Homo sapiens: one gene and its partner. The protein of the gene in region 1 interacts with the protein of each later gene in a pairwise test. Each region holds a gene or a part of one and is shown on either strand. Other genes may lie near its edges.

Evidence for each region. The genes of interacting proteins can lie anywhere in the genome.
Region 2: the proteins of TRIM46 (region 1) and RNF125 interact in a two-hybrid assay, tested with the Homo sapiens proteins (one large-scale study listed by BioGRID and IntAct).

Annotation. Positions count from the first base shown.
Region 1 is NC_000001.11:155,180,335-155,183,988, reverse strand, and holds part of TRIM46 (tripartite motif-containing protein 46), read right to left. Parts: intron 3,555-3,654; coding exon of another isoform or gene 3,487-3,554; exon of another isoform or gene 3,310-3,486; intron 2,138-3,309; coding exon 1,840-2,137; intron 193-1,839; coding exon 1-192.
Region 2 is NC_000018.10:32,070,825-32,073,873, forward strand, and holds the end of RNF125 (E3 ubiquitin-protein ligase RNF125), read left to right. Parts: 3' UTR 1-2,395; downstream 2,396-3,049. UniProt on the Homo sapiens protein: E3 ubiquitin-protein ligase that mediates ubiquitination and subsequent proteasomal degradation of target proteins, such as RIGI, MAVS/IPS1, IFIH1/MDA5, JAK1 and p53/TP53.

The DNA.
Region 1 (3,654 bases):
ATGCCCAGGCGGGGTGGCAGGGGCACTGTGCAGCCGGCTGTGGGGCCATCCCTCCCTGTCAGCCCTGCGTTTGAGCTTGCCCCCGACCCCAGCAGGATCTTGCCCATGCCAATGGTTAGGAAAGCGAAGGGTGGCGACGCCTCCACTGTGGCATCCTCGGCACCGCTGTCGTGCCCGCTGTCCGGGTCGTACCTGCAGAAGCGGGTGTTGGGGACGAGATTGTTGAGGGATGGAGTGACGGATGAGGTACCAGAGGGAGACGCTGGAAGGATGGAATGTTAAGGAGCAAGAGGTTGAAGGGATGGATTTTGGGTGTTGAGAAGAAAACGCTGAAGAGGCAGGGGTTAGAGTATAGGGTCAGGGGTTTGGGTTTGGTGGAAAGAGAGCACTGAGAGGAAAGCACATTGGCAAGAGAGGGGCAGGCGGACAGGAAAGACATGGCATTGGTATAGCCCGCGGAAAGGCATTGAGAAAAATGGTCTTGGGGAAATCATGCTGGGGAGATGGTTCTGAGGATTAGAGGACATTGGAAGAATCCGAGATTAGTGACTAAGAAGAGAAAGGATGTTGGGAAGGTGGGTGTCGGGAGAGAGATGAGGGTGGATTGGTGTCACAAATGAAGGGTGTTAGAGGTATGCGGGGTTGGGGACAATGGGGTTTAGGAGGGGTTTGTGTTGGGGAGAAAGCATTTTGAAGAAATAAGGTGTTGGGGGATAGAGTGCTGGGGAGAAGGCTTAGGATGCAAAGCATTAGTGGGAGGGTGTTAAATAGGGAGTTGGGGCCAGGCACAGTGGCTCACGCCTGTAATCCCAGCACTTTGGGAGGCCAAGGTGGGCGGATCACGAGGTCAGGAGATTGAGACCATCCTGGCTAACACGGTGAAAGCCCGTCTCTACTAAAAATACAAAAAATTAGCTGGGCATGGTGGCGGGTGCCTGTAGTCCCAGCTACTCGGGAGGCTGAGGCAGGAGAATGGTGTGAACCCGGGAGGTGGAGCTTGCAGTGAGCGGAGATCGCGCCGCTAGACTCCAGCCTGAGCGACAGAGCGAGACTCCATTTCAAAAAAAAAAAAAAACAGGGAGTTGGGGAGAGGAGGGTTATGGAGGTGGGATGTTTAAGGGAAGAATTTTTTTTTTTTTTTTTTTGAGAAGGAGTTTTGCTTTTGTCGCCCAGGCTGCAGTGCAATGACACAATCTTGGCTCACCGCAACCTCCACCTCCCGGGTTCAAGTGATTCTCCTGCCTCAGCCTCACGAGTAGCCGGGGTTACAGGCATGCGCTACCACGCCCAGCTATTTTTTTTGTATTTTTAGTAGAGATGGGGTCACTCCATGTTGGTCAAGCTGGTCTCGAACTCTCGACCTCCAGTGATTTGCCTGCCTCAGCCTCCCAAAGTGCTGGGATTACAGGCGTGAGCCACCGCATCCGGCTAAGGGAAGAATTTTAAGATACGGGTGAAGGAGGTCTTGGAGAGCAAAGGTTTTATGGAGAAGGTATGTTGGAAATGGAGTGTTAGGAAGAAAGGACACAGATGCTTGGAGAGATGGTGTGTTGATCCAGAGTGACAGATGGTTGGAAGGAAGCAGAGATGGCTCCCTCTTCTATCATCCCTTTCCCTGACCACACGACATGCTCTGAAAATCAGTCCTCAAAAGCCCTTTTGCTGAGCCCATGCGTCTCCTGGACACAGGCCTCCCAGCCTGGCTTCCAGGCTCCTACTACTTCCTCCTAATCCCCTCCCAGCCCCACCCTAGCAAGTCTGTGCTCCACTTGCCACCCCTTCTGTGCCCCTCACTCCCACCAGGACCCCCACACCCCATCCCTTCCAGAGGGGTCTGACCTGGGGCTGATCACATCGGGGGCACCCTGGAAACTTTCTTGAAGCTTGCTCTCCAGCCCGACGCCCACCTTGACCAAGTAGGAGGCTGGGTCTACGGCGCAGGCCCAGTAGCTGCGGCCCTGGGTCACAGCCACGTCGCCCAGGACCACATCCACACTCAGGTGGCAGCCGGTCAGCAGCCGGTCAGCAGCCAGCAGCAGGGGCAGCCCTGGAACACTCCGTACTGCTCGCTGGTCCTTGCTGATAGCCAGCCGCTCTCGGCTTGCGCCCCAGCGGCTATCGAGGAAGAAGTGCAGGACTGGAAGGAGGGAGAGGGTTGAGATGGAGCAAGAACTTCAGGGACAAACACTGGCACTGGGGGCTGTGAGACTGCAGAACAGGGAACGCGTTGCAAGGGGGTTCAGTCACCAGGAACAGGCAGGGGGTTCAGGAGAACAGGACATGGGAAACTGGAATGGGGGGCATGAGGAAAAAAGAAGGGGGCATTCCAAATGGGCGTGGGACCCCAGAGAGTTTTTGTGATGGCAGTGGGCACAGAAGTCAGTGCTCCGGACCTGGCTGACTCATGGGGCTCCCTCGAACCCCTTACTTGTGGCCAGCCCCATGGACAGTTCCCACTATTCTGTTCCACCTGGTGACATTCCCATCACCATCAATCTGTGCCTTCCAGCCCATACTCTGGGTTCACACCTGGCCCTTATACCCAGCCCCTATTTGGGTGGCAAGGCTTCCCTCTTATGCCCACCCCCTGGAGTCCGAACTATTTTCTAGTCACTTTAGTAACATTCTTGAGCCCTAACCATGAGCCGGACACTGTACTCAGACTCCCATTGATCGTCTCAAACCAGTTGAATTCTTGCAACTCTATGAGGTAAGCATTATCATTTTTTAAAAATATATATATGTTTTTGAGACGGAGTCTCACACTGTTCCCCAGGCTGGAGTGCAGTGGCGCAATCTTGGCTCACTGCAACCCCTGCCTCCCAGGTTCAAGCCATTCTCCTGCCTCAGCCTTCCAAGTAGCTGGGATTACAGGCGCCTGCAACCACACCCAGCTAATTATTTTCATTTTCATTTTTAGTAGAGACGGGGTTTCACTATGTTGGCCAGGCTGGTCTTGAACGCCTGACCTCGTGATCCATCCACCTCGGCCTCCCAAAGTGCTGGGATTACAGGCGTGAGCCACTGTGCCCAGCCAAAAATAATTTATTTTTTACGTATTTTATTTACTTATTTATTGAGACAGAGTTTCACTCTTGTTGCTCAGGCTGAAGTGCAATGGCGCGATCTCGGCTCACCGCAACCTCCGCCTCCTGGGTTCAAGCAATTCTCCTGCCTCAGCCTCCCAAGTAGCTGGGATTACAGGCATGCGCCACCACACCCAGCTAATGTTGTATTTTTAGTAGAGATGGGGTTTCTCCATGTTGGTCAGGCTGGTCTCAAACTCCCAACCTCAGGGGATCCACCCACCTTGGCCTCCCAAAGTGCTGGGATTACAGGTGTGAGCCACCTTGCCTGGCCTTTATTTATTTATTTATTTATTTATTTTTCCGAGACGTCGGAGTCTTGCTCTGTTGTCCAGGCTGGAGTCCAGTGGCGCGATCTCAGCTCACTGCAACCTCCGCCTCCCAGGTTCAAGCGATTCTCCTACCTCAGCCTCCCGAGTAGCTGGAATTGTAGGCACGCACCACCACGCCTGGCTAAGTTTTGTATTCCTAGTAGAGACGGGGTTTCACCATGTTGGCCAGGCTGGTCTCAAACTCTTGACCTTGTGATCCGCCCGCCTCGGCCTCCCAAAGTGCTGGGATTACAGGC
Region 2 (3,049 bases), on another chromosome or scaffold:
TTCCCGAGTAGCTGGGATTATAGGCATGCGCCACCACGCCCTGCTAATTTTGTATTTTTAGTAGAGTCAGGATTTCTCCACATTGGTCAGGCTGGCCTCAAACTCTCGACCTCAGGTGATCCGCCTGCCTCGGCCTCCCAAAGTGCTGGGATTACAGGTGTGAGCCACTGCGCCCGACATCCCAATTTTTAAAATAGTTATACTATGTCAACATTTTCAGAACATACTGGTATAGCATACTGTACTTTCTTCCTTTTATCCCCCATTTATTCTTAGTTCTTCAACTATATATTTAACACTTGCCCCCAGTTTTGTTTTGTTTTGTTTTGAGGAGGAATCTTGCTCTGTTGCCCAGGCTGGAGTGCAGTGGTGTGATCTTGGCTCACTGCAACCTCCGCCTCCCGGGTTCAAGTGATTCTCCTGCCTCAGCCTCTCGAGTAGCTGGGATTACAAGTGGGCACCACCACACCCGGCTAATTGTTGTATTTTTAGTAGAGATGGGTTTTGCCATGTTGGCCAGGCTGGTTTTGAACTCCTGACCTCAAGTGATCCACCTGTGTTGGCCTCCTAAAGTACTGGGATTACAGGTGTGTGCCACCGCGCCAGGCAATTGCCCCCAGTTTTTATTTGATGGCTCTGACTGTTTCTCATATCTGACTCTTTAATTATGAATCCAGGGCATAGATTAGTATCTCCATCTTGTAAGGATGCAAAGAAGCCATGAAAATAAGTAATATCAACTCCTGAGGATAAAACGTTACTTGACTAGAGTTAGCTTTTTAATTGTAATCATTTATAAACTTCTTTGTTCCTTACATATAAGCATAGTCATAACCATGGTACCCAAAATTTTCTATAAGTTATTGTAACTCCTTAAAGGTCTTGCTACAGTTCTTTTATCCAGTACAAATAATTGGGAAAATGTAAAGCTGAATGAAATCTAGTGAGCCTCATATCCTCCCTTTTAGATATTGATTTTAAGTTTGCTTTTCACAGCTGCTAAAAAGTAACAACTGATTTTTAGTTCCACAACCTCTCTTTCTTCAATTTAGATGGATCATACAATAAAGCAAAATCTGGCTGGTTACAGTGGCTCACACCTATAATCCCAGCACTTTGGGAGGCTGAGGTGGAGGGTCTCATGAGCCCAGGAGTTCAAGACCAACCTGGGCAATATAGTGAGACTCTTTCTATTTAAACAAAAACAAAAACAAACAAACAAACAAACAAAAAGCTGGGCATGATGCACACCTTTAGTTTCAGCTACTAAGGAGGCTGAGGTTGGAGGATCACTTGAGCCTAGGAGGTCAACACTGCAGTGAGCTATGATCATGCTACTGCCCTCCAGCCTGGGCAACAGAGCAAGACCCTGTCTCCAAAAACATAAATAATTAAATATAAATAAAAATAAAGCAAAATCTGTTGGGAAACGAGAAAAAGGAGAGGAATTTTTCAGGAATAATCATAAAAAGAAATGATCATCAGACTGAAAGTCCAGAGCCTGAGAAATGAAAACATATTTTTAAGCATTGGTGTTGACCATGCAGACAAACTTTTGTTAATTCAGAGCGATACAAAAGGCACTTTGAATCTATAAAACTTGAAAAAGTTAAAAATTGTATGTCGGATAAAGCTTTAAGTCATCTGTCACTATTAACCTCAGTGCAGCAATTCTGACTCCTGTGCCTGGATTCCTTTTATGATAATTTTGCCACCTACAGGACAGATTAGGTGCTGGTCGCCTGAATTATTTTGTGTTCTGAATTATTTTGAGCTCTAAAATGGTAAAGTACAAATACTCATTGTTTTACTGTGCCTTTGGCCTTTTATAAAAAGGTATTTATAATTCGTTGATAAAAACCAATATTTGAAGCTGTTGATTACCAACAAAAAAGTTTCACTCTCTTTATAGTGCTTCAGGATACAACTTTTTCAGGGCCTTATTAGAGAAAAACTGATTCACATGTTATTCTTCTAAAGCTAAATTATTAAAATGTAGGTTGAAAGATTGGATTGATTGTGAATCTACACTAAAGATATGGTTCCAGGCAGACCTCCTTAGAGACCTCCAGGCAGACCTCCTTACTGTCTTCAGTGATGTTTAATTTCATTACTGTTACTGGGTGCCAAGTGTCTTTCATTTGGAAGTGAACTTACTCCAGTTATTGAATGTTTATCATATCATAATTTGCATTTTTCCAACATTGAAGGTATTTTAAAAAGTCACTAAGAGATTCATTCTTTTATTATTCAACTACAAAAAAATAGTGTAATGATCAGAATTTAAAATGTGTGATTCTTTTTCTTCTGTAAGTATGTATTGCTATGATAAATAAAAAATGGCAGGACCATTGTTTTTATTAAAATATCTACTGTGTCTATTCTTAAACATTAATCTTGATTACTATTTTACTCAAATTTAATAATGCTTTTTAAATTTTCATCATTGAGCAACATCTATCACAAAGGTGTACATTCATTTAGGCCAGTACTTCTCAACTGGGGGTAATTTTGTCTCCCAGCAGACATTGGCAATGTCTAGATACATTTTGGGTTGTCCTAACAGGGCTTGGGTGTGCTAGTGGCCTGAGATCTAGATACAGGTCAGGGATGCTGTTCAGCATTCTACAGTGCACAAGACAGCCCCTTGCAACAAAGAATTATCCTGCGCAAAATGGCAATAGTGCCTAGGCTTAGAAACTCTGATTTGGTCAACATAATACTGAGCACTATGGATTTATTATTTGTTCTGCTAGCAAGAGGCTTCACTGAAATTTAAAAGGTAAGATGTAGATAGATTCTTCCCCCTGCTAAATCCATACTAAGTTTTGAATGGCTGTAGCTGTCATGCGTACCCATATGTCATGAGCATATTAATTTTTTGATTTTTTGCAAGAACACATACAGGACAGAACACAAGTGTTACTGACGAAACCTCTGATGCCTGTTTGCTGAGTGACGTTCTAGATGATTGAGGGAACCCAGATCAGTTGAGAAGATTTACCTTCATCATTTAGATTATCTTTATTGAAATAAGACAAAATATTAC